3 separate regions of the Homo sapiens genome follow, and regions 1 and 3 are each linked to region 2. Evidence: fine-mapped expression QTL. A gene starts in region 2. Each other region holds a variant in brackets. All regions are shown on one strand. Distances are between the middles of the regions.

What was found. PIP is the estimated chance that this variant, and not a neighbour inherited with it, causes the effect.
Region 1: its variant is fine-mapped to the expression of SLC28A3 in monocytes (Quach 2016, PIP 0.95).
Region 3: its variant is fine-mapped to the expression of SLC28A3 in whole blood (TOPMed, PIP above 0.99). The same link has a PIP of 0.9 or more in monocytes and monocytes after LPS.

Annotation. Positions count from the first base shown.
Region 1 is chr9:84,401,269-84,409,559 of GRCh38, forward strand. No RefSeq gene overlaps it. Among named protein-coding and RNA genes, the nearest start is that of SLC28A3, 65 kb to the left of the region's middle. The variant A/G (reference allele first, on the strand shown) is at 3,418.
Region 2 is chr9:84,337,317-84,345,607 of GRCh38, forward strand. SLC28A3 (solute carrier family 28 member 3) reads right to left here and starts at 3,442. Exons shown (of 18, transcript NM_001199633.2): 1 at 3,258-3,442. The coding sequence starts at 3,317.
Region 3 is chr9:84,365,324-84,373,614 of GRCh38, forward strand. It overlaps a transcript of SLC28A3 not described here. Among named protein-coding and RNA genes, the nearest start is that of SLC28A3, 29 kb to the left of the region's middle. The variant T/G (reference allele first, on the strand shown) is at 3,130.

The sequences.
Region 1 (8,291 bases), 64 kb after region 2:
TGCACTCCAGCCTGGGGACAGAGTGAGAATCTGTCTCAAAAACAAACAAACAAACAAACAAAAAACAAAAAAACAAAACAAACAAAAAAATGGAAACTGGAAATCATGGTTGGAGTTTATGAAAGGAGACCATGCAGACTCCAATTAGTAGGTCAATTCTCAAAGACAGGACTTGGTTCTATGTCAAAGTTGAAAAAAACGCATTCTGGCGGGTTAAGTTAAATATTTAAGGTATGTATGTATAATCTTTTATGATTCCTTGCCTTAACTTTTTTTTCTAATTAACCACCCATCTATGGATATGGATACAGATAGTTTTGGATGTAAGAATTCTGTATTAATAATACGTGCAGGAAGAAAGAAGAAAGGAGATATGCATTTTCTGGTCTGGCACTGTATACAGCAGGCACTTAATAAATAGAAATTCTCATTCTCCTCTCTTTTTTTTTTTTGAAAGAGAAGGAACCATAACTTTCTAACACAGCTAATACTATTTCTGAACAGTTCTAGGTAACTGGAAAGTTCTGTTTTTTTTTTTTTTTTTTTTTTTTTTTGAGACGGAGTCTCACTTTGTCTCCCAGGCTGGAGTGTAGTGGTGCAATCTTGGCTCACTGCAACCTCCACCTCCCAGGTTCAAGTAATTCTCCTGCCTCAGCCTCCTAAGTAGCTGGGATTATAGGCATGCGCCACCACTCCTGGCTAATTTTTGTATTTTTAGTAGAGACAGGATTTGGCCATGTTGGCCAGGCTGGTCTCCAACTCCTGACCTCAAGTGATCTGCCTGCCTCAGCCTCCCAAAGTGCTGGGATTACAGGTGTAAGCCACCACACCCGGCCTGGAAAGCTCTTTTAAAGCTTCCTCATAATTTCCGTATAGTACAGTCCTAGACTTGTATTTTGGGTGTGCCCAGAACCAAGGGCAGTTACATACACACCACACACACACACACACACACACACACACACACACACACACATTTTTTTTGAGACAGGGTCTTCTCACTCTGTTGCCCAGACTGGAGTGCAGTGGCACAAATGCAGCTCACTGCAGCCTTGACCTTTGAGACTCAAGTGATCTTCTTGCCTCAGCCTCCCTAGTAGCTGGGACTACAGGCAAGTGCTACCATGCTGGGCTAATTATTTTATTTTTAGGAGAGATGGGGTCTCACTATGTTTCCCAGGCTGGTGTCAAACTCTGGGGCTCAAGTGATCCTCTCACCTTGGCCTCCCAAAGTGCTGGAATTATCGTTGTAAGCCATCGTGCCCAGCCCTATACATAGCTGAAGACAACATTAAGTCATGTCCCTCCATTAATCTCTTCTCCACAGCAATTTTTAGTGTCCCTCCCTTCATTTCTGGGCCCGAGCCCTGTGACACCCCAGATGAATGTGACATTCTACAGGCAGCACTGGAGAGCTGTCCTGCCACTTTGTCCCTATTCTGGACACCCTCTTCCAATGAAGGTATCTGCCACCGTGTAAGGATTTTTCACAGCTGTGTCAAGTGTTGTTAATACAGGCCTGGCTGCCGGCCTTCCAGGCCTTTCATCAGGGACTGCTACAAAGCAGGCCTTCTCCATCCTGAAATTGCACATTTGATATTCTTTCATTGTGTATGTGGGAATTTGTATGAATTACATTTTATCTTGTTGGTTTCAGCCCAGTTTTCTAGTTTGAGTTCTTTTTGTTTGGATCTTGATAGAAGTTGTATTAGTCCATTCTCATACTACTGTGAAGAAATACCCAAGACTGGGTAATTTACAAAGGAAAGAGGTTTAATTGACTCACAGTTCGGCATGGCTGGGAGGCCTCAGGAAACTTACAATCATGACAGAAGGGGAAGCAAACACATCTTCTCATTGTGGCAGGAGAGAGAGAAGTGCTGGGCAAAGGGCCCCTTATAAAACCATCAGATCTCATGAGAACACACTGACTATGAGAAAAACAGTGTGGGGGTAACCATGCTATTACCTCCCACTGGGTCCCTCCCATGACAGGTGGGGATTATGGGAACTACAATTCAAGATGAGATTTGGGTGGGGACACAGCCAAACCATATTACAAGTCATCCAGCATAGTGACTATTTCTCCCTGCTTGGTGTTTTGGCCGGTTTGGCAAACAAGCCTTCCCAGTCTTTCTTCATGCTGGTGGTAAATACATTGGACAGTAAAGGGCCTGAGACACAGCTGTGTGGCATGGTACAAGAGGCCTGGACTTTGTCCTCCACCCAGTTCATTTAACATTCAATTAAACAAATATTCATCAAGTTGAGCATGCCAGGCACCGTTCTAAATGCTGGCAGTATAGCAGTGGACAAAACAAACAAAAATTCTACCTTTTATTTATTTATTTTTTTGAGACTGAGTCTCACTCTGTAGCCCAGGCTGGAGTACAGTGATACGATCTTGGCTCACTGCAACCTCTGCCTCCTGGGATCAAGTGATTCTCCTGCCTCAGCCTCCTGAGTAGCTGGGATTACAGGCACCCACCACCACACCCGGCTAATTTTTGTATTTTTAGTAGAGACGGGGTTTCACCATGTGGCTGGTTTTGAACTCCTGACCTCAAGTGATCCATTGGCCTTGGCCTCCCAAAGTGCTGGGATTACAGGCATGAGTCACTGCGCCTGGCCCAATTCTACCCTTTTGGAGCTTGCATTTTAGTCGACAGCATTTTAACTAAGAAGTCATGTCCCCATCATATATACCTTAATCTTTATTTGATTAAGCTCTCATTTATTCATAATGATGGTTAATTAAGTATTTACCATGTGTTGAGCCCTGGTCTTCATGCATGTAGTAAGTATGAACTTATCTACAACACACCATCCACTAGATTGGCAAAAAGCTCATTATCACACTTTTGGGGTCGGTCCTCTCTCCTTTAAGGATCATCTGTGAACCTTTTGAATCTTTTGCAGTCTAAAAGGAAATTTCTCCAAAGTTCAATTTTCAAGTAGGGAAAAAAAAACTAAGTGTTGGTCCGCAGCTCTGCAGCTGCTCATCACCGCCACTTGAGGGCGCTGATGAACACAAATTGTCCTCCATCCATCCATTGGACCCCGTGGTCTTTGCCCTATGACCCAGTCCAGAAAGTTGGGGCCTTCAAAGAAAGGCAATTCTCCACACACTCACTCAGTCCAGGGTAACACGCTCCTCAGTGCGTTTTCTGGAGTTCTCAGTCATTCTCCTCTGGAGCCAGTCCTCATAAGTGGCTCAGGGGACCTCCTCCTGGGATCCAAAGCCCTGGATCTCTTTAGTTCTGAGAATACACTGGGTGGGTAGGCAGACAGATTGAAGAGACCAGGATTGAGATGTTTTCTTTTGCATTCCTCAATATCTTTATTTTATTTTATTTTATTCCTTTTTAAAGAGGCTCACTATGATGTCCAGGTTGGTGTCGAACTCCTGGGCTCAAG[A/G]GATCCTCCTGCCCCAACCTCCTGAGTAGCTGAGACTATAGGTGCATGCCCCTGACCCCAGCTGTGTTCCTCAAAATCCAATAGACTTATTCCGCTTCCTTCTTGACATAGTGTTAATTGATCCAACTCTTCTCTTCTTTTTGGTCTCACATGACAATCTGGTTACTTCTTAAGGAAGGGGATAGGTGACAAGGTGCCACCTTGGGGGTTTCTGCTGAACACCGACTGCTCCCCATCCCTGTAGCAGAGATGGTGGAGATTAGGTGGTGAGGAAGACTTTTGAAACCTTAATGTATGAGTCGCCATGTCTCAGAGGCCACTAAGGGACTTCCTATGCATCTTTAAATATCAGTGAAAAAAAGCCTTTCAGGTTTACCCCAAACTCATGCATTATCTTATTTGACCCCCAGAATACCCCTGCAAGGCAGGATCATTTTAGCCATTTCACAGATGAGGCAACAGATTCAGAAGTGATAGGAACTCATTGTGAGTTTGGAAGCTGGGTTACTTGGGCTTTGAAGTCTTACTTAGTCCACCACCCATGCTCCTCTATCTTGCTCACAGGCTCTCACCCTCTGTACCAACCTGTACCTCCATGCACCATTGTTCAAGCATCAGAGAGGACTTCCAGAGAGCTTGGAGGCTCAACAGTTTCTCAATAGGCTGTTGGAACTGAGAACTTTAGAAACGACTTGCCTGGCCAGGCATGATGGCTCAGGCTTTGAATCCCAGCACTTTGGGAGGCTGAGGCGGTTGGGTCACTTGAGGCCAGAGTTTGAGAGTTCGAGAGTTCTCAAGAGTTCGAGACCAGCCTGGATAACTTGGTGAAACCCCATCTCTACTAAAAATACAAAAATTACCTGGGTGTGGCAGTGCACACCTGTAGTCCCATCTACTTGGGAGAAGCATAGAATTGCTTGAGCCTGGGAGGTGGAGGTTGCATTGAGTTGAGATCATGCCACTGCACACCAGCCTGGGTGACAGAGTGAGACTGTCTCTAAAAAACAAAACAAAACAAAACAAAACAAAAAACAAAAAAAACATTTGCCTTAATGAGGAACCGCTGATTTGATTCCTGAAGTAGTACAACCCATTAATCTAATGTACGTAATGGGAATAGAAGAATTGTATTACACTAGAGCTAAAAGAGACATCAGTGATCGTGTAGCTCAGCTTGTTGTTTTTACAGAGTTGAATACTGAGGATCAGGGAGCTTAAATGACAACTAGGCAGTAAAAGAACTCATGGAGTAACCTGGTCTTCTCATTCCCAATTTAGAACTTATTTTAAACTGGTGTTTGATGACTTTTGCGTTAGAGGTCTTTGTTATTCTAGAAAAGTGAAAATTACTGAAGTGTTAAAATACAAAGCTCTTTCTTTTCTTTCTTTGTTTCTTTCTTTTTTTTTTTTTTTTTTTTTTGGCAGAGTTTCACTCTGTTGCCCAGGCTGGAGTGCAATGGTGCGATCTTGGCTCACCGCAACCTCTGCCTCCTGGGTTCAAGCGATTCTCCTGCCTCAGCCTCCTGAGTAGCTGGGATTACAGGTGTGTGCCACCATGCCTGGCTAATTTTGTATTTTTAGTAGAGATGGGGTTTCTCCATGTTGGTCAGGATGGTCTCGAACTTCCAATCTCAGGCGATCCGCCCTCCTCGTCCTCCCAAAGTGCTGGGATTACAGGCGTGAGCCAATGGGCCTGGCCCTATAAAGTACTTTCAATCTTTGTCAAGACAGAGCAACAGGTTTATTTTTATGCTATTAGCATTATAAAGCTGGGCAAAATATATGAACATGTATTGTTAGGCATTGGACAGTAGACATCACAGGACTGCAATTCTTGAAAGACAGCACACAAAGTGAGGTCCATTTTCATGCTGCCTTTTTTTTTTTTTTTTTTTTTTGAGATGGAGTCTCCTTCTGTTCCCAGGCTGGAGTGCAATGGTGTGATCTCAGCTCACTGCAACCTTTGCTTCCCAGTTTCAAGCGATTCTCCTGCCTCAGCCTCCCGAGTAGCTGGGATTACAGGTGCACATCACCACGCCCAGCTAATTTTTAGTAGAGATGAGACTTCACCATGTTGACCATGGTTGGTCAGGGTGGTCTTGAAGTCTTGACCTCGGGTGATCCAACCACCTTCGCCTCCCAAAGTGCTGGGATTACAGACATGAGCCGCCATGCCCAGCCTGTATTTTGTTTTTTTGAGACAGGGTCTTGCTCTGTCACCCAGTCTGTCTTGCAGTGGTGCGATCATGGCTCACTGAAGCCTCGACTTCCTGGACTTAAGTGATCCTCCTACCTCAGCCTCCTGAGTAGCTGAGACTGCAGACATGAGCCACCATGCCCCACTAATTTTTCTTTTTTGTAGCGATGGGATCTCACCATGTTGCCTCAGCCTCTCAAAGTGCTGGGATTACAGGCATGAGCCACCATGCCTAACCAATACTGACTTTTTGCTTGAGACATTTTCCAAACTGTAGGGAAATGGAGCCCAACCAGATAGTTGAAGTCTTGCCTGGTGGAGAAAATGAAGACAGAAAGTGAGGGTAGCTAAGACTGCTTGAACTTGCAGGTCTGATACCAGAGAGAAGGCAATTGAAGAGAAACAATCAGAAATCTGTATAGGAGCTTCCTTCAGGTCCTTGGCAAGATCTTTAGTTGCATATTTATTGACTCAGACTCTGCAAAGTCTAGCTGAGAACAGCTTCTAGGGGACTGAGAGGTAAACAGTGATTTTAGAAGTTTGATCTGTTAGGGAGATGTTGGAGTTCTGATTCAACTAAAGTAGAGCGGAACATTTGAGACCCAAAACAACACTCACCTTAGGGGAAATCACTATGTCCTAGGAATAAGGGACATGCTGTAGGGCTGAGAGCAAAGATGAAATAGACCTGCCTTAAGAAAGCCAAATCCCAAGGCTTGACAGGATCAATATGACATGTTAGTAATTTAACTGCTTATCAGAAAAAAATCACAGTTTTTAGAGAAAAACAAAATCAAGAGTCTCTACAACATATCATTCAAAATGTTCAGTGTATGTCTTTGTTCATTTGTTCTGCTATAACAAAATACCCAAGACTGGGTAATTTATAAAAAACAGAAATTTATTTTCTCACAGTTCTATAAGCTGGGAAGGCCAAGATCAAGGCAATGGCAGATTCGGTGTCTGCCGAGATCCCATTCTTCATGCTGTGCCTCCTTGCTATGTCCTCACATAGTACCAGATGGAAGGGCAAAAAAGGAACTGGGGGCCGGGCGTAGTGGCTCATGCTTGTAATCCCATCCCAGCACTTTGGGAAGCTGAGGCAGGCAGATCACCTGAGGTCAGGAGTTCAAGACTAGTCTGGCCAACATGGTGAAACCCTGTCTCTACTAAAAATACAAAAATTAGCTGGGCATGGTGGCGGGCACCTGCAATTCCAGCTACTGGGGAGGCTGAAGAAGGAGAATCCCTTGAACCCGGGGGCGGAGGTTGTAGTGAGCTGAGATTGTACCACTGCACTCCAACCTGGGCAACAGAGACTGTCTCAATTAAAAAAAAGAAAAAGAAATATGTCTAAGAGTTTTCTGTTTTTTCTTTACAAAGATTATTTGCCGGCCAGGTGTGGCGGCTTAAGCCTGTAATCCTGAGAGGTGACAGCCTGCTGGCAGCCCTCGCTCCCTCTCGGCGCCTCCTCTGCCTGGGCGCCCACTCTGGCGGCGCTTGAGGAGCCCTTCAGCCCGCCGCTGCACTGTGGGAGCCCCTTCCTGAGATGGCTGAGGCCGGAGCCGGCTCCCTCAGCTTGCGGGGAGGTGTGGAGGAAGAGGCATGGGCGGGAACCCGGGCTGTGTGCGGCGCTTGCGGGCCAGCTAGAGTTTCAAGTGGGCGTGGGCTTGGCGGGCCCCATACTCAGAGCCGCCGGCCGGCCCGCCGGCTCCGGCAGTGAGGGGCTTAGCACCTGGGCCAGCAGCTGCGGAGGGTGCGCAGGGTCCCCCAGCAGGGCCGTCCCAGCAGCGGTGCTCTCGATTTCTCGCCGGGCCTTAGCTGCCTCCCCGCGGGGCCGGGCTCGGGACCTGCAGCCCGCCATGCCTGAGCCTCCCCCCACCCCCGTCGTGGGCTCCTGTGCCGCCGGAGTCTCCCTGACGAGCGCCACCCCCTGCTCCATGGCGTCCAGTCCCATCTACCGCCCAAGGGCTGAGGAGTGCGGGTGCAAGGCACAGGACTGGCAGGCAGCTCCACCTGCCGCCCCGTGCAGGACCCACTGGGTGAAGCCAGCTGGGCTCCTGAGTCTAGTGGGGACTTGGAGAACCTTTACGTCTAGCTAAGGGATTGTGAATACACCAATCAGCACTCTGTGTCTAGCTCAAGGTTTGTAAATGCACCAATCCGCACCCCGTGTCTAACTCCAGGTTTGTAAATGCACGAATTAGTGCTCTGTGTCTAGCCGATCTGGTGGGGACTTGGAGAATCTTTATGTCTAGCTAAGGGATTGTAAATGCACCAATCAGCACCCTGTCAAAACGGACCAATCAGCTCTCTGTAAAAGAGACCAATCGGCTCTCTGTAAAATGGACCAATCAGCAGGATGTGGGTGGGGCTGGATAAGAGAATAAATGCAGGCTGCCGGAGCCAGCAGCGGCAACTTCCTGGAGTCCTGTTTGACAGGGTGGGAGTTTTGTTCTTTTGCCCTTTGCAGTAAATCTTGCTGCTACTAACTCTTTGGGACCAATCAGCTCTCTGTAAAACAGACCAATCAGTTCTCTGTAAAATGGACCAATCAGCAGGATGTGGGTGGGGCCAGATAAGAGAATAAAAGCAGGCTGCCCGAGCCCGCAGCGGCAACTCGCTGGAGTCCTGTTTCACAGGGTGGGGGTTTTGTTCTTTTGCCCTTTGCAGTAAA
Region 2 (8,291 bases):
TACTGAATAAATAGAAATAACCCAGTCACTGTTTTTAGGTGTGGGTGTTGTTGGTATGATACTCTGCTGGGTTTGAGATGCCCTGCTTAGAACCTTGAGGCCTGGGGATGCTAGCCTGTGTGTGTGCGCGCGCGTGTGTGTATGCGTATGTGGGTGTGAGTGTTTGCACACGTGTGTGTGTGTACTTTGTCCTTTCAGGCAGTTATTTTTCCTGAACTGATGGGAACATCTTGCACAAAATCAAGAGCCAGTTTGCTGACTGTTTTAAGGTTTAAAAAATATTTTAAAATAAAATAAGAAATCCTTAGATATTCCACATACACGCAATACTTTAAATGCCAATCCGAACTTCCTTCATAAATAGCAAACGTCTTATTTGCAACTACTGTTGAATGAAGTCATTTCCATCCTCAGCCATATGAGAAATAAGTTCCTTATTCATAGAAAACGTTTAGAGGTACAATAAAATGAGATTAGAAAAAAAAAACCCTAACATTCATTTCTATCGTTGGTTACAAAATCCACTCTCATGTATGAAGTGTGCTCTAGCTGTGAAATCCTTTCTTGGAGGTGAGATCATTTCTCTCTTATAACCCATATCACTGACTTTGTGCTCCTGTTTAACCTTTCCCACTGGAGTACTAGCTCCATGAAAACAGCAATTGGTGCTCCCTTCTTTGAGGAACAGTCCAGATGAGAGCCTGTCCAGGTAATCCATAGATATGCATAACCATTGCACCTGCACCAGGTCTTACAGGCACAGGCCTTTTGGGAACCCATATCAGCATTTCAAGCTGTGAAAGTAGTTCTACTTAGTAAAATTAGAACTTTGGTCTACCAAGGGCACTCTTAATATTTGAAGAAGAAAAATGAATTTCTAGCACAATTCACAGACTAGGACAAGGTGAATAAGTAAGCATCCTAACTTATTTGGAAGTCCTGGTGGCATGTTAATGCATATTTAATAATGCGAGTGAAGTAGCACATATTTTACAATCAATTAATTTTCCTTAAAGAAGATAATGTAGCAGGAGAGCTGAATGTCAAACAAGGTAAGACTCATACTTATTAACTTGGCAGGAGTTATGAGGCCTCTGATTCTCTTGAAAGACAAATTGTCTTCACTATTTTGATTTTGAAATGTAGAAATTCAAATTTCAATCAATCCAATGAGTAAGGATGACAGGAAATTTTACAGAACTAGGAGGAAGCTTCCTTTCATTTTTCCTTCTTTTTATTGGGGCAGGTGTAGGGGGATGTTTCCCCCACAAAACAGCAGTTTTGCTAGAAGACAGTGAGGGATCACCACCGTTGTGTGCCCTCCTCCCTGGGAGCAGCCAGTTGCTGTGACATGGACCTTCTCTATTGCAGATATATTTTCTTGCTGCCATACTTCCTCTGACTCTATCCAATTCCATCCTTTCCATTCTCTGGAATCAGAATGGGCCCATGCTTTATGCTTTTCCCCCTCACTTAGCCCTTAGAGAAGAGATCAGGATGTGCCACCCTCCAAATGCCCACATTTTGGCACAAGAATATTTTGAACTGAAGGCTATGAAAAAGAAAGCAGACACAGAAAGAGCTCTCTGCCCTCCCCCATCCCCCATCTTCCTAAAAGCAGCACATTTATTGATATTTCCCTTGCACAGGTGTCCCGCTTGCTCATACAAGGAAGAGAGCAACCCTTATCACCAAAGACAGAGATGCCGCTGAGATAAATCTGCATGAACAAACCTCGATAAATTAACCCTTATCTTCCATTATTTCCACCTCCCACCCCCACTTTATTGTCCCTAAAAGCATAACCCTCTTTTCCTTTGTCTAGTCATTTCACTATTTGCCGTGCTTTGTTTTAATGGTATATAAGCTCCTGAGTCTATTAGGTTTTTCCGTTTCTTTTATGTGAGGCTCTCATACATGTGAGATTTTATTTTATTATTATTATTTTTTTGAGACTGAGTCTCCCTCTGTCAACCAGGCTGGAGTACAGAGGCACGATCTTGGCTCACTGCAGCCTCTGCCTCCCAGATTCAAGTGATTCTCCTGCCTCGGCCTCCCGAGTAGCTGGGACTACAGGCATGTACCACCATGCCCGGCTGATTTTTGTATTTTTAGTAGAGATGGGGTTTCACTATGTTGGCCAGGCTGGTCTCAAATTCCTGACCTCAAATGATCAGCCCGCCTCAGCCTCCCAAAGTGCTAGGATTACAGGCATGAGGCACCACTGCCAGCCACATGTGAGATTTTAAATATGAATAAAATTTGCGTGCCTTTTCTCCTGCTAATCTGTTTTATGTTGGTTTAATTTGCAGGCCTCAGGCACTCAACCTAAGAGGGTAGATGAAGTTGTTTCCTCTCCTACACTTGTGACCTATAAGTGGTAACCCGATGCCTACTCATGGAGATGGGCATCACTGTGACCATGGGACAGATGATCAAACTTGGGCTCTGGGAAGTTACAGGAATTTGTGGGTGCTGGAGTCTGAACTCCTGTCAAAGCCCTTTTACCTCCCTCTTTCCTTTCTTGGCTAGCACCTCAAAGTTTTGTTTTGCCCATCTAGCAGACCGTAAAGTCCAAGGGATTGTTGACACTTGCCGGTGCAGGCTTCCCATCTTCTCCAGAGCGCCCATGCTGAGTGTCAGCTAAGGAAAGGAAGCACACCTAAAAACAGCCCTGGAAATCCCCATCCCAGACCCAGTCAAAATAGCCTGGTGTTTCTGACAGGTCTCCTTCTATGTCTCTGCGGGCACCCAGCCTCGGGCTGAGCAGCATTAATCACTCAGTGAGTTTTGGTTGATGAAGTGAGACTGATTTGCGTAATCCAGCTGCTCTGGGGCAGGTACCGGGGCCATCTGACAGGGGCTCCAGGACTTGGCTTGAGTAAAAGGAACCCTGAGACACTACCCCAGCCAGGATCTAAATTCCCCCATTTTTCCCTTCTCACCAGTTCTTTGGAAAAGTGCCTGAAGATAAATAATGGACCCCTGCTGTGAGCCAGAAGGGAAAAAAGGCAAGAGAAGAAGGCTGTCTTGTTTCTAAGTGACCATAGGGATCACAACACATCGATTAAAAGAGACTTTTCAGGTTTGTCAACCCAGAAGAGCCCAAGAAGAAAAAATAATGGGCTTAAAGTGTGCCGTTAAAAATCGTATTGTCCTGATAATCTCCCTGCTTAGGTAAGAAACTTGCCAAGGGGCTAAGGAAAGGGCAGCTTTTCCACTGAAGGCCTTTAACATAAGAGGAAAGCTCTGCTCACCTGGAAGCCCACGTTGCTGTAGCCCTCAGCTCTGGGGGCTGCTGTACTCCTCAGCTCCATGCTCTTTTTGCTGCTGGCTGGCTCTGGTCTGGAGGTCCTTTGTACCTGGGAAAAAGCACCAGTCTCTGCTGATGTCAGAAAGCCACCTGCTGTTACAGGGACCTGGGCACAGCTTGCTTCAGTTTGGAAACTTCTGCAATAATCTCCTGAATGACTAGGGCTGACACCTGGTTGGGGTGGGGCAGAGAGGCGGGCGGGTTGGCGGGGTGGAGGCATCTAGTGCTGGCCCGCCCACCTTATTAATCTTTTCCTTTATCCCCATTTTTGGCATCCTATTTGCACTCCTGGGGAGAAAACTCTTGTGGTGCACAAAACAGAAAAGGACACTTTCTTTTTCTTTCTTTCTTTCTTTTTTTTTTTGAGATGGAGTCTCAAAAAAAAAAAGGCTGGAGTGCAGTGACGCAATCTCGGTTCACTGCAACCTCTGCCTCCCAGGTTCAAGCAATTCTCCTGCCTCAGCCTCTCAAGTAGCTGGGATTACAGGTGCATGCCACCACACCTGGCTGACTTTATTTTTAGTAGAGACGGGGTTTCACCATGTTGGCCAGGCTGTTCTTGAACTCCTGACCTCAAGTGATCCACCTGCCTTGGCCTCCTAAATTGCTGGGATTACAGGCATGAGCCACCGTGCCCAGCCAGAAAAGGACACGTTCTCTATAGTGCTTAGTGAAATCCTCTGTTTTCCTGTGGGTGGTGTTAAAGACTAGGAGTGGTGGTGGGGTGGAGGGTGAGTGAACACAGGATATAAGGTCATGCCGCCCTCAGTGATCACCTACTGTATACCAGGGATGGATAGATGGATAGATACATAGACAGATAGGTAGGTAGGTAAGGGTCTTGGCTCTTCTTCCGAACAACTCAAAATTCTATACTGAAGTACAGAAAAGTTAACAATTTGTTTAGTGTCATTTAGCTAATAAAGGGATAATGAGAATTCAAATTCAAGTTTGGTTAATTCCAAAACCTTTTATTACATCCCTGCTTCAGACTGGGCTGCTTTCAAAAATCCAGCTTACAGAAATGCCGATATGTGACAAGTAAATGAAAGGTGACCAGCTATTCAATTATCAAAAGTGAATAGAAGTGCTTTGTTTTCATAAAGCAATTCACTTTGCTTTATGAAAATATTAGCTGTAGAATTCTTTTAAAATAGGGATTTTCCCCCCTAGTACAATTTAAAATACTGCAAAACTGTGGACAAAAGAATGGAAAAGGCCTGGTGCGGTGGCTCACGCCTGTAATCCCAGCACTTTGGGAGCCCAAGGCGGGTGGATCACTTTAGGCCAGGAGTTCAAGACCAGCCTGGCCAACATGGCGAAACTCCATCTCTACTAAAAATACAAAAATTAGCCAGGAGTGATAACGTGCGCCTGTAGTCCCAGCTACTCGGGAGGCTGAGGCGGGAGAATCGCTTGAACCCAGGAGACACAGATTGCAGTGAGCCGAAAACGCACCGCTGCCTCCCATCTGGATGACAGAGTGAGACCCTGTCTCAAAAAAAAAAAAAAAAAGAAAAGAAAAAGAAAAAGAAAAAGTAAGAAAATACCAAGTATTATGAGTGGTTATTTCTCGGTTTTTAATTTTATGGGCAGTTGGTGTTTTTTTTTTCTCCTTCAAATGCTGCTGAGTTTTCTATAAAGAGAATGATTTACTTTTATTATTGTTAACCTAAAGGAAAAAACGGAGACAAACTTAATGTAAGTATAGAGTTTATTTGGTCTAAGTTTGAGATTGCAACTTGGGAGCACATATTCAAGTTGCTCTGAATATACACTTAGTAGCAGTTACAAGTAGATTCTTGTGTGTGTGTGTGTGTGTTCTGTTGCCCAGGCTGGAGTGCATGATCATGGCTTGCTGCAACCTTGACCTCCTGGGCTGAAGCTATCCTCCTGTCTCAGCCTCCCGAGTAGCTGGGACTACAGACAGGTGCCATCACCCATGGCTAAATTTTTTTTTTTTTTTTGGTAGAACTGGGGGCCTCACTATGTTGCCCAGACTTGTCTTGAACTCCTGGGCTCAAGCAATCTTCCCACCTGCCTTGGTTTCCAAAAGTGCTGGGATTACAGGCACTGTGCCTGGCCACAAGTGAATTTTAAAGGAAAAGAAGGAGTTTCTGAGTTGTTTACCAATTATTTACATTAAAATAACATAAGCTATTGATTGGCTATACATTGCTATTTGTATCACACATTCTAGGAACAGAAAGGCAGCCAGTCAGGAACAAAATTCCTTTAAAACAATTGCCCCTGGCCAGGCACAGTGGCTCCCGCCTATAATCCCAGCACTTTGGGAGGCCGAGGCAGATGGATCATGAAGTCAGGAATTCGAGACCAGCCTGGCCAACATGGTGAAACCCTGTCTCTTCTAAATACTACAAAAATTAGCCAGGCATGGTGGCACATGCCTGTAGTCCCAGCTACTTGGGAGGCTGTGGCAGGAGAATTGCTTGAACCCAGGAGGTGGAGGTTGTGGTGAGTCGAGTGGAGGTTGTGGTGAGTCGAGATCACGCCACCGCACTCCAGACTGGGTGACAGAGCAAGACTCCATCTCAAAAAAAAAACAAAAGACAAAAAACAAAAGCAAAAAAAAATTGCCCCCGGGCACAGGGTTGAGTGGTGACTGAAGTCCAACCCTCCGTTTCTCTGGGCCTGATAGATTTTGCATTGCTCACATAGCTGGGACTGTGTGAGTTATTTTTGTTTTCTCTTTATCAGTGACTGAGGCCCAGTCTCTCTGGGCCTGATAGATTTTGCATATCTCACATAGCTCAGACTGTGGGAGTTATTTTTCTTTTCTTGTTATCATGATACAGACTGTACAGTGTATACATAATGATTAAAGGCTTGCAGGAACCTGTGGTCTGGGTTCAAATCCTGGACTCTACCTCATAACTACAGCCAACCACAGCTTGAGGGTCACACCTAACCTTCTGCTGCTTTTATATGGCCCAAGAGCTAAGAATGGGTTTTAGATTTTTAAATGGTTGAAAAAAATTAAAAGGAAGAATATTTCCTGACACATTAAAGTTATATGAAATTCAAACTTCAGTGTCTATAAATAAAGTTTTGTAAAAACAGAAACATGGCCATTGATTTATGTATTGTCTAAGGCTGCTATCATCCCATAAGGACAGAATTGAGTAGCTGTGACAAATACCACACGGCTCAAAGACAAAATATCCACTACCTGGCTGATGCCTATAATCCCAACACTTTGGGAAGCCAAGATGGGAGAATCGCTTGAGCCCAGAAGTTTGAGATCAGTCTGGGCAATGTAGGAAGACCCCGTCTCTACAAAAAATACAACAATTAGCCAGGTGTGGTGGTACGTGCCTGTAGTCCCAGCTACTTGGGAGGCTGAGGTGGGAAGACTTACTGGCCATGGGAATTTGGGCAAGTAGCTGAGTTCTCTGTATCTCAGATTCTTCCTTCATAAAACGGAGATAACAGTACCTGAGGACTAAGCTCTGATTTTTTTTTTATCTTGCCCAAATTATGATCTAAGGGGTCTGGGGAGTCATGCCCTACAAATCATAAATTCTCATCATATGGGTTTTTTTTTTTTTTTTTTTGGTCAGACAGAGTCTTGCTCTGTTGCCCAGGCTGGAGTGCAGTGGCAGATCTCAGCTTACTGCAACCTCCGACTTCCGGGTTCAAGTGATTCTCCTGCCTCAGTCTCCCGAGTAGCTGAGACTACAGGCGTGTGCCACCATGCCTGGCTAATTTTTACATTTTTAGTAGAAACAGAATTTCACCATGTTGGCCAGGCTGGTCTTGAACTCCTGATCTCAAGTGATCCACCTGCCTTGCCCTCCCAAAGTGCTGGGATTACAGGTGTGAGCCACCGCACCCGGCCCAGATGGGTTTTATTTAACCCTATATATCATGACTTACTTTCAAACCTGACTCGCATAACATTATGAGACAAGGAAGAAAATAAAAATATTTTACCCCAAAACATGTTTCTTTGACATATTTTGAAAAGGAAACATTGTCATCCTTTGTCTCTAAGGGCAGCCACTATAAAACTTCAGAAGAACTTTGGTTTCCACAATCTTTATCTTAGCCTGAATATTCCCTTTCTATGAATCCCAGGTCTTGAGACAAACTCAACCAATTGTCAACCAGAAAATGTTTAAATTCCCCTATAGCCTGGAAGCCCAACCCCCTCCTCCCCTTGCTTTGAGTTGTCCTGCCTTTCTGGACCAAACCAATGTATTTCTTAAATGTATTTGATTGATGTCCCATGCCTTTTTAAAATGTATAAAACCAAGCTGTGCCCTGACCACCTTGGGCAAATGTTCTTAGGGCCTCCCAAGGGTTGTGTCATGGGCCATGATCACTCATATTTGGCTCAGAATAAATGTCTTCAAATATTTAACAGAGTTCAACTCTTTTCATCGACATACCCATTTAGAAACAGTGCTGAGATGATAAAATGAGTTAATATACACAGGGAATAGTGCCTGACACATAATTCAACATCACCCAAATTTTATGATTTAGCTCTTTCGTGCTTCTTATTGATGAGACTTGGGGATTTTCATTAGTTCTTCCCCATCATTGCAATGTGCCATAAGTAGTAGTCATTGTGTTACCAAAGGCAAAAAAAAAAAAATCCAAGTGGAAGTGAGCAAGAGAAGTACAGATAAATAGACAGCAAATATTTGGGAAACTTTCCTTGAGAAATCGTTAGTTGGAAGAAACCAGTTGGTGCAACCTGATATTAAAACCTTCACCAACTCAAGACTCAATCTAGTTGAAGGTTATGGATGATCCTTACTTTCTGAAGCAAAAGACAGACATCTTCATTCTATCATTTAAAGCCTCTAATTGCAGAAACGTGACTCCAATGCCTGACATTCTTGCAGACACTGCTTTAGGAACTTTTAGAAATGTAACGATGTGTTTTCTTCTCCTTGGCTGCAGACAAAATTTGAAAAGAATGCAACAACATTTGGGGGAGCATATCATT
Region 3 (8,291 bases), 28 kb after region 2:
GAGAAATGTCTATTCAAATCTTTTTGCCTAGTTTTAAATTGGATTATTAGATTTTTTTTCCTATAGAGTTGTTTGAGCTCCTTATATATGCTGATTATAATCCTTTGTCAAATGAGTAGTTTGCAAAACTTCACTTTGTTGCTATTTTTCCTTTGCTGTGCAGAAGTTTTTTTTAAGTTGATATAACCCCATTTGTTCACTTTTGCTTTGGTTGCCTGTGCTTGTGGGGTATTTCTCAAGAAATTTTCGCCCATAACAATGTCCTGGAGATTTTTCCCAAACTTTTCTTGTAGTAGTTTCATAGATTTAAGTCTAATCCATTTTGATTTATTTTTGTATATGGGGAGAGATAGGGTTCTAGTTTCATTCTTCTGCATATGGATATCCAGTTTTTTATTCTTTTACTGTCTCTGTATATTTTCAGACAAGATTGGGTGTGCTCGAAGACTGGGCGTGGTGGCTTACACCTGTAATCCCAGTACTATGGGAGGCTGAGGTGGGAGGATCACCTGAGGTTGGGAGTTCGAGACCAGCCTGACCAACATGGAGAAACCCTGTCTCTACTAAAAATACAAAATTAGCCAGGCGTGGTGGCACATGCCTGTAATCCCAGCTACTTGGGAGGCTGAGGTGAGAGAATTGCTTGAACCCAGGAGGCAGAGGTTGTGGTGAGCCAAGATCGTGCCATTGCACTCCAGCCTGGGCAACACGAGTGAAACTCCATCTCAAAACAAAAAAACAAAAAAAAGATTGGGTGCATTCGGGGTGGTATGGCTGTAAACTGACTGTATTTTCAAACAGCCTGGCTTCAAGCTCACTAATTCTTTCTTCTGCTTGATCAATTCTGCTATTAAGATTCTGATGCATTCTTCAATATGCCAGTTGCATTTTTCAGCTCCAGAATTTCTGCTTATTTTAAACTATTTCAATCTCTGTGTTAAATTTGTCTGATAGAGTTCTGACCCTTCTGTGTTATCTTGAATCTCTTTTAGTTTCCTCAACACAGCTATTTTGATTTTTCTGTCTGAAAGGCCAAATATCTCTGTTTCTCCAGGATTGGTCCATGTTGGCTTATTTAGTTCATTTGGTGAAGTCTTGTTTTCCTGGATGGTGTTGATGCTAGTAGATGTTCTTTGGTGTCTGGGCATTGAAGAGTTAAGTGTTTATTGTAGTCTTCACTGTCTGGGCTTGTTAGTACCTGTCCTTCTTGGGAAGGGTTTCCAGATATTTGAAAGGTCTAGAGTGTTGTAATCTAAGCTATATCTGCTTTGGGGGACACCCCAAGCTCAGCAACACTGTGGTTCTTGCAGACTTGTAGAGGTACTTCCTTGATGGTCTTGGACAAGATCTAGGAGAATTCTTTGAATTACCAAGCAGAGACTCTTGTTCTCTTCCCTTACTTTCTCCCAAACAAACAGAATCTCTCTCTCTGTTCTGAGCCACCTAAAGCTGGGGGTGGAGCGACACAAGCACCTCTGTGGCCACCACCACTGTGACTGTGCTGGGTCAGCCCTGAAGCCAGCACAGCCCTGAGTCTCACCCAAGACCTTCTGTAACCACTTCCTGGCTACTGCCTATGTTCTGTCAAGGCCCTGGGGCTCTACAGTCAACAGGTGACAAGGCTAGTCAGGCCTGTGTCCTTCCCTTCAGGTCAGCAAGCTCCCCCAGGCCTTTGGTGGGTCCAGAGGTGCTGTCTGGGCCTCAGGGAGTAGAATGAAAACCTTAGAAGTCTACCTGCACTGTGGCTGAGCTGGCACTCAAACCATAAGACACAGTGCTTCCCACTCTTCCCTCCCTTTTCCAAAGGCAGAGGAGCCTCACTTCATAGCCACCACCACCGCAGGCCACGGGGAGTACTCCACAGGAAGTACTGCCATACTACCGCCAATATTCTCTTAAGGCCCAAAGTCTCTTAAGTCAGCTGGTGGTGAATGCTGCCTGGCCTGGGACTCACCCTTCAGGGCAATGGGCTCCCCTCTGGCCCAGGGCAGGTCCAGAGATATCCACAAGCCAGGTCCTGAAATATGTGACCCCAAAAGCCTGCCTGGTGCTTTGCCCATTTGTGGCTGTGCTGGTATCTGAAGCTAGCAAGTTTCAGAGGCTCACCCTAGGCCCTTGATTGAAGGGGTCCTGCCCCTCCACACCTGTGGGTGTTTCTCGTCAGGTGGAGACGAGAGACTGAGAAAAGAAATAAGACACAGAGACAAAGCATAGAGAAAGAACAGTGGGCCCAGGGGACCCGCACACTCAGCATGCGAGGACCTGCACCGGCGCTGGTCTCTGAGTTCCCTCAGTATTTATTGATTTCTATTTTTTACTATCTCGGCAAGGGGAGTGTGGCAGGAGAACAGAGTGATGATGGGGAGAAGGTCAGCAGGAAAACATATGAGCAAGTAATCTGCATCATAAATAAGTTCAAGGGAAGGTACTGTGCCCGGATGTGCACGTAGGCTAGATTTATGTTTCTCTTTACCCAAACATCTCAGTGTAGCAAAGAGTAACAGAGCAGTATCACTGCCAGCATATCTCGCCTCCAGCCATAGGGCGGTTTTCTCCATCTCAGAGTAGAATGAATGGTCGGCTTCACACGGAGACATTCCATTCTCAGGGACATGCGGGAAACAGAGGCCTTCCTCTTATCTCAACCGCAAAGAGGCCTTCCTCTCTTACTAATCCGCCTCAGCACAGACCCTTTATGGGTGTCGGGTTGGGGGATGGTAAGGTCTTTCTCTTCCCATGAGGCCATATCTCAGGCTGTCTCAGTGGGGGGAAACCTTGGACAATACCCAGGCTTTCTTGGGCAGAGGTCCCTGTGGCTTTCCACAGTGCATCGTGTCCCTGGTTAATAAAGGACGGAGAATGGAGATGACTTTTACCAAGCATACTGCCTGCAAACATATTGTTAACAAAGCACATCCTGCACAGCCCTAAATCCCTTAAACCTTGATTCAATACAGCACATGTTTCTATGAGCACAGGGTTGGGGCTAAAGTTACAGGTTAACAGCATCTCAAAGCAGAACAATTTTTCTTAATATGATCAAAATGGAGTTTCTTATGTCTTTCTTTTACTACATAGACACAGTAACAGTCTGATCTCTCTTCTTTTCCCCCACACTGATACAGTACC[T/G]GGGTATCGCTGCTGGTTGTTCAGGTCCCAAGCGCTCTTCATTTAGCAGATGCTGAATGCTGGCCGGACTGGGTCCTTTCCTTCAAGGTGGCAGGTTCACTTCTGACTCAGGGTGTGTCTAGAAATGTCATCTGGGAGCTGGGGCCTGGAATGGGGGCCTCACAACTCTGCCCAGTGCCCTATCCTGCTGTGGCTGAGTTGGCATCCAAGATGCAAGACAAAGTCCTCCCCACTCTTCCTTCTCTCCTCAAGAGGAAGGAAGGAGTGTCTTATGCAGCGGAGGGCTGTGCAGCCTGGAGTTAGAGGAGGGGCACCCCAGCTGGTGTCTCAGTATGTCACATGCCACACCCCTGCCCCCCCACCAAGTCCACTGTCTCTGGGCCCAGTTCAGCCCTAGGACATGAAGTCATGTCAGAAGAACTGCAGGCTGGTCAGGGTGGAGGAACTGGGGAGAGGGGGTAGAAGATGAAGTCATGCCAGGCGTGGTGGCTCACATGTGTTATCCTAGCATTTTGAGAGGCCGAGGCAGGTGGATCACTTGAGGTCAGGAGTTTGAGACCAGCCTGGCCAACATGATGAAACCCTGTCTCTACTAAAAATACAAAAATTAGCCGGGCATGGTGCTGGGCACCTATAATCCCAGCTACTCAAGAGGCTGAGGAAGGAGAATTGCTTGAACCCGGAGCGGGGCGGAGGTTGCAGAGAGCAAAGATCATGCCACTGCACTCCAGCCTGGGCGACAGAGCAAAACTCTGTCTCAAAAAAAAAAAAAAAGAAGATGCAGTCAGATGAAGATGGACTCTGTAGGGCATGGCATGATCACATTTACTTTTTTTTTTTTTTTTTTTTTGCCTAAGATTTGCAGCCCTTACGGCCTAGACTGTCTTTAAGGTTTTTTAGAGTCCCAGAGCACTGTAGCCCTCAGTGGTGAGGTTTGTGGGAACTCAAGTTCAGACAGCTGGAATAGGCGATTCCCCTCTGGCTAGGGCTGGTTTGAATGCTCCCCCAATAGGTGGGTGTTAGCTGAGTTTGGTTTAGTTTTCCTTTCTGCTCTAACAGAACAGCACTGAGTTCAATGCCTTACAACTGCTGTTTACTCCCTCCCTCAGTGCCCAGAGACGCGCTCCGCACCATGCTACTGCTGGGGTCAAGCGTGGAATGGAGGGGTGGGGGTACTTTGAGGGCTCATGTGATTTTTTGGTTCTTTTTTTTTTAACTTTTAAGTTCAGGGGTAATGTGCAGGTTTGTTATATAGGTAAACTTGTGTCACAGCGGTTTGTTGTACAGATTATTTCATCACCCAAGTATTAAACCTATTATCCATTTGTTATTTTTCCTGATCCTCTCCTTCCTCCAGCCCTCCACCCTCCAGTAAGCCCCGGTGTCTGTTGTTCCCCTCTTTATGTCCATATGTTCTCATCATTTAGTCCCCACTTATAAGTGAGAACATGTAGTATTTGGTTTTCTGTTCCTGCATTAGTTTGCTAAGGATAATGGCCTCCAGCTCCATCCATGTTCCTGCAAAGGATATGATGTCATTCTTTTTTATGGATGCATAGTATGCTATGGTGTATAGATATTGTATTTTTTTAATCCAATCTACTATTCATGAGCATTGAGGTTGAGTCCATGTCTTTGCTGTTGTTAACAGTGCTGCAATGAACATATGTGTGCATGTGTCTTTATAATAGAAGGATTATATTTCTTTGGGTATATACCCAGAAATGGGATTGCTGCATCAAATGGTAGTTCTCTTTTTAGATCTTTGAGGAATTGCCACGCTGTTTTCCACAATGGCTGAACTAATTTACACACCCACCAACAGTGTATAAGCATTCCTTTTTCTCTACAACTTCACCAACCCCTGTTACTTTTTGTGTTTTTAATAATAGCCACTCTGACTGGTGTGAGATGGTATCCATCGTGGTTTTGATTTGCATTTCTCTAATGGTCAGTGATGTTGAGCTTTTTTTCACATGCATGTTGGCCACATATATGTTTCTTTTGAAAAGTGTCTGTTCATGTCCTTTGCCCACTGTTTAATGGGGTTGTTTGTCTTCTTGTAAAATTTAAGTGCCTTATAGATGCTGGATAATAGACCTTTGTCAGATGCATAGTTTGCGAAATGTTTCTCCCATTCTGTGGGTTGTCTTTTTACTCTGTTGATGGTTTATTTTGCTGTGGAGAAGCTCTTTAGTTTAATTAGATCTCGTTTGTCAATTTTTGCTTTTGTTGCAATTGCTTTGGGCATTTTCATCATGTAATTTTTGCCTGTTCCTATGTCCATAATGGTATTGTCTAGGTTGTCTTCCAGGGTTTTTATAGTTCTTAGTTTCACATTTAAGCCTTTAATTCATCTTGAGTTAATTTTTGTATGTAGTGTAAGGAAGAGGTCCAGTTTCAATAGTCCGCACATGGCTAGCCAGTTATTCTAGCACCATTTACTGAATAGGGAGTCCTTTCCCCAGTGCTTGTTTTTGTTGACTTTGTCGAAAATTAGATGGTTGTAGATGTGTTGTCTCATTTCTGGGCTCTATATTCTGTTCCATTGGTCTATCTGTCTGTTTTTGTACAAGTACCATGCTATTTGGTTACTGTAGCCCTGATGTATAGTTTGTAGTAGTATAGTTTGAAGTTGGGTAGCGTGATGCCTCCAGCTTTATTCTTTTTGCTTAGAATTGCCTTGGTTATTTGAGGTCTTTTTTTGGTACCCTTTGATTTTTTTTTTTTTTTCCAAAATGGAGTTTTACTCTTGTCACCCAGGCTGGGGCACAACGGCGTGATCTTGGCTCACTGCAACCTCTGCCTCCTGGGTTCAAGCGATTCTCCTGCCTCAGCCTCCCGAGTAGCTGGGATTACAGGAGTGGGCCACCACTCCCAGCTAATTTTTGTATTTTTAGTAGAGACGGGGTTTCACTATGTTGGCCAGGCTGGTCTTGAACTCCTGACCTCAGATTATCACCTGTCTTGGCCTCCGAAAGTGCTGGGATTACAGTTGTGACCCACAGCACCCAGCCCATATGAATTTTAAAATAGTTTTTTCTAGTTCTGTAAAGAATATCACTGGTCGTTTGATAGGAATAGCACTAAATCTATAAATTCAATGAGCAGTATGGCCATTGTAACAATATTGATTCTTCCTATGAATAAGCATGGAATGTTTTCCCATTTAAGGAGTTTTTTTTTTGGGGAGGGGATAATTGGTGGAGCCTTTTATTCTGCCAACTTGCTCTGCTTCCCTCATAGATTTTTTAAAAATTAAAATTTAAAAAAGAAACTAAAAAAATACTTTTAAGAGAGAAAAGAAACAGCAAATATAACAAATGGGTTCACTGTATTATGCTAAAAGTGGTAAGTGCTGTGGAAAAAAAGGAAAAAGTTGGGTAGAGGAAGGGATTTTGAAATGCCAGGGGGCAGGAGGGCTCATATTTCTCAGTATTCATAGGGTGAACTCACTGAGGTTGTGCAAGAAGATATCTGTGGTCAAAGTACTGGCAAGAACTGTTAAAAACGCCCTAACGTGGGAGCATGAAGTTGTGTCAGAAGTACTGCAGCCTGGTCAGGGTGGAGGAGCTGGGGAGAGGGAGTAGAAGATGAAGTCAGATGAAGATGGACTCTGTAGGGCATGGCATGATCAAATTTACTTTTTTTTTTTTGTTTTGAGACAGAGTCCCACTCTGCTGCCGGGACTGGAGTGCAGTGGCTGTGATCTCGGCTCACTGCAACCTCCGCCTCCTGGGTTCAGGAAATTCTCCTGCCTCAGCCTTCCAAGTAGCTGGGATTACAGTCACGCTCTATCACGCCTGGCTAATTTTCGTAGTTTTGGTAGAGACGGAGTTTTGCCATATTGGCCAGGCCGTTCTCAAATCCCTGACCTCAAGTGATCCACCCGCCTTGGCCTCCCAAAGTGCTGGGATTACAGGTATGAGCCACTGCTCCCGGCCTCCAAATTTACATTTTAAAATCAGCACTCAGCTGCTGTACTGAGAGTAAACTAACTGAACCCATGTCTTCTTGGCCTATGTGCTTCTAGGGCCACCTTCTGCTTTGGATTAGCTTAAGCAAAACTAATGAGCTCTAAATACAAGCCCTGTCTGGCCTGGTTTTAGGCGATGTCAGATCTTTAGTTTCCCCTAGTAGCCCTAATTTATCTTTATTTTTGCTCATGACACTCTCAGCTTTCAACTTAGCATTGCTGGTGGGTTATAGTTAGGGTTTGTCGTTTTCATAAAACTCTTCGTTCTATTTAGTTACAGTACATCTGTTTCTTATGAAAGATTAATTTTATGCATCTTTAAATCTTTGAAAACATAGCCTTGCCTCATGCTGGTTCTCGTCCACCCCTGTAGGCCTGATAAATGTTGGAGAAAACTTTGACAGCATAATTAAGGCATAATTTTATTCTATTTTTTTAACCTCTGTCACTCAAAAAAAAAGTGCAAAATAGAATTTATATGGCTGGAAGAACAAGGTGGCAGTGATTTATTTATGCCAGACCAGAGGAGGATATTGATATTTATTAAAATAAAATACTAAGATGGTAAATGGTCTACTAATCAGAACCTGGTTAACATCATGTGCCTGAGCAGGTGGGGTAGAGACAGGCAGAGCCCTGGAGATTGCTCTTATTTCAAATACAAGGGATACAGGGTCAGAGGGAAAGGATTTCGTTAGAAAAAGAGAATGCTCGCATTTACTCAGAGCGGACTGTTTGCTGAGCTCTCTGGCTGGACCTAGGAGCTAATGCCTTGTCTATGGAATCGTGGCTGAATTCCTACCCACAGCCTTCTTGGTCCTCTCTGGCCTTCTACTGCCTTTACAGATTGATCGTGGGGTGCAGTGGACCCTTTAGCACTTTGGAATTCTCTTAACCCACCCTGTACTGTCTCCAAATGGTTGCCTTAACTCAAGTCTACAGTGTTGTAAAATCTTTTGTCCTCAAAGGCACAAGACGTTCTGAATTGGCCCCTTCAGTGTATTTCCAGGGTACTTTGTAATGACAGGAATGGTTCATCATTGAGTGGTAAGGTCCTGTAGCATATTCCTTATATGCATGTTTCATTCATTCCTCTCATTAATGATATGAGACAAGTCCCTTCCCTTCCCTTCCCTTCCCTTCCCTTCCCTTCCCTTCCCTTCTCTTCTCTTCCCTTCCCTTCCTT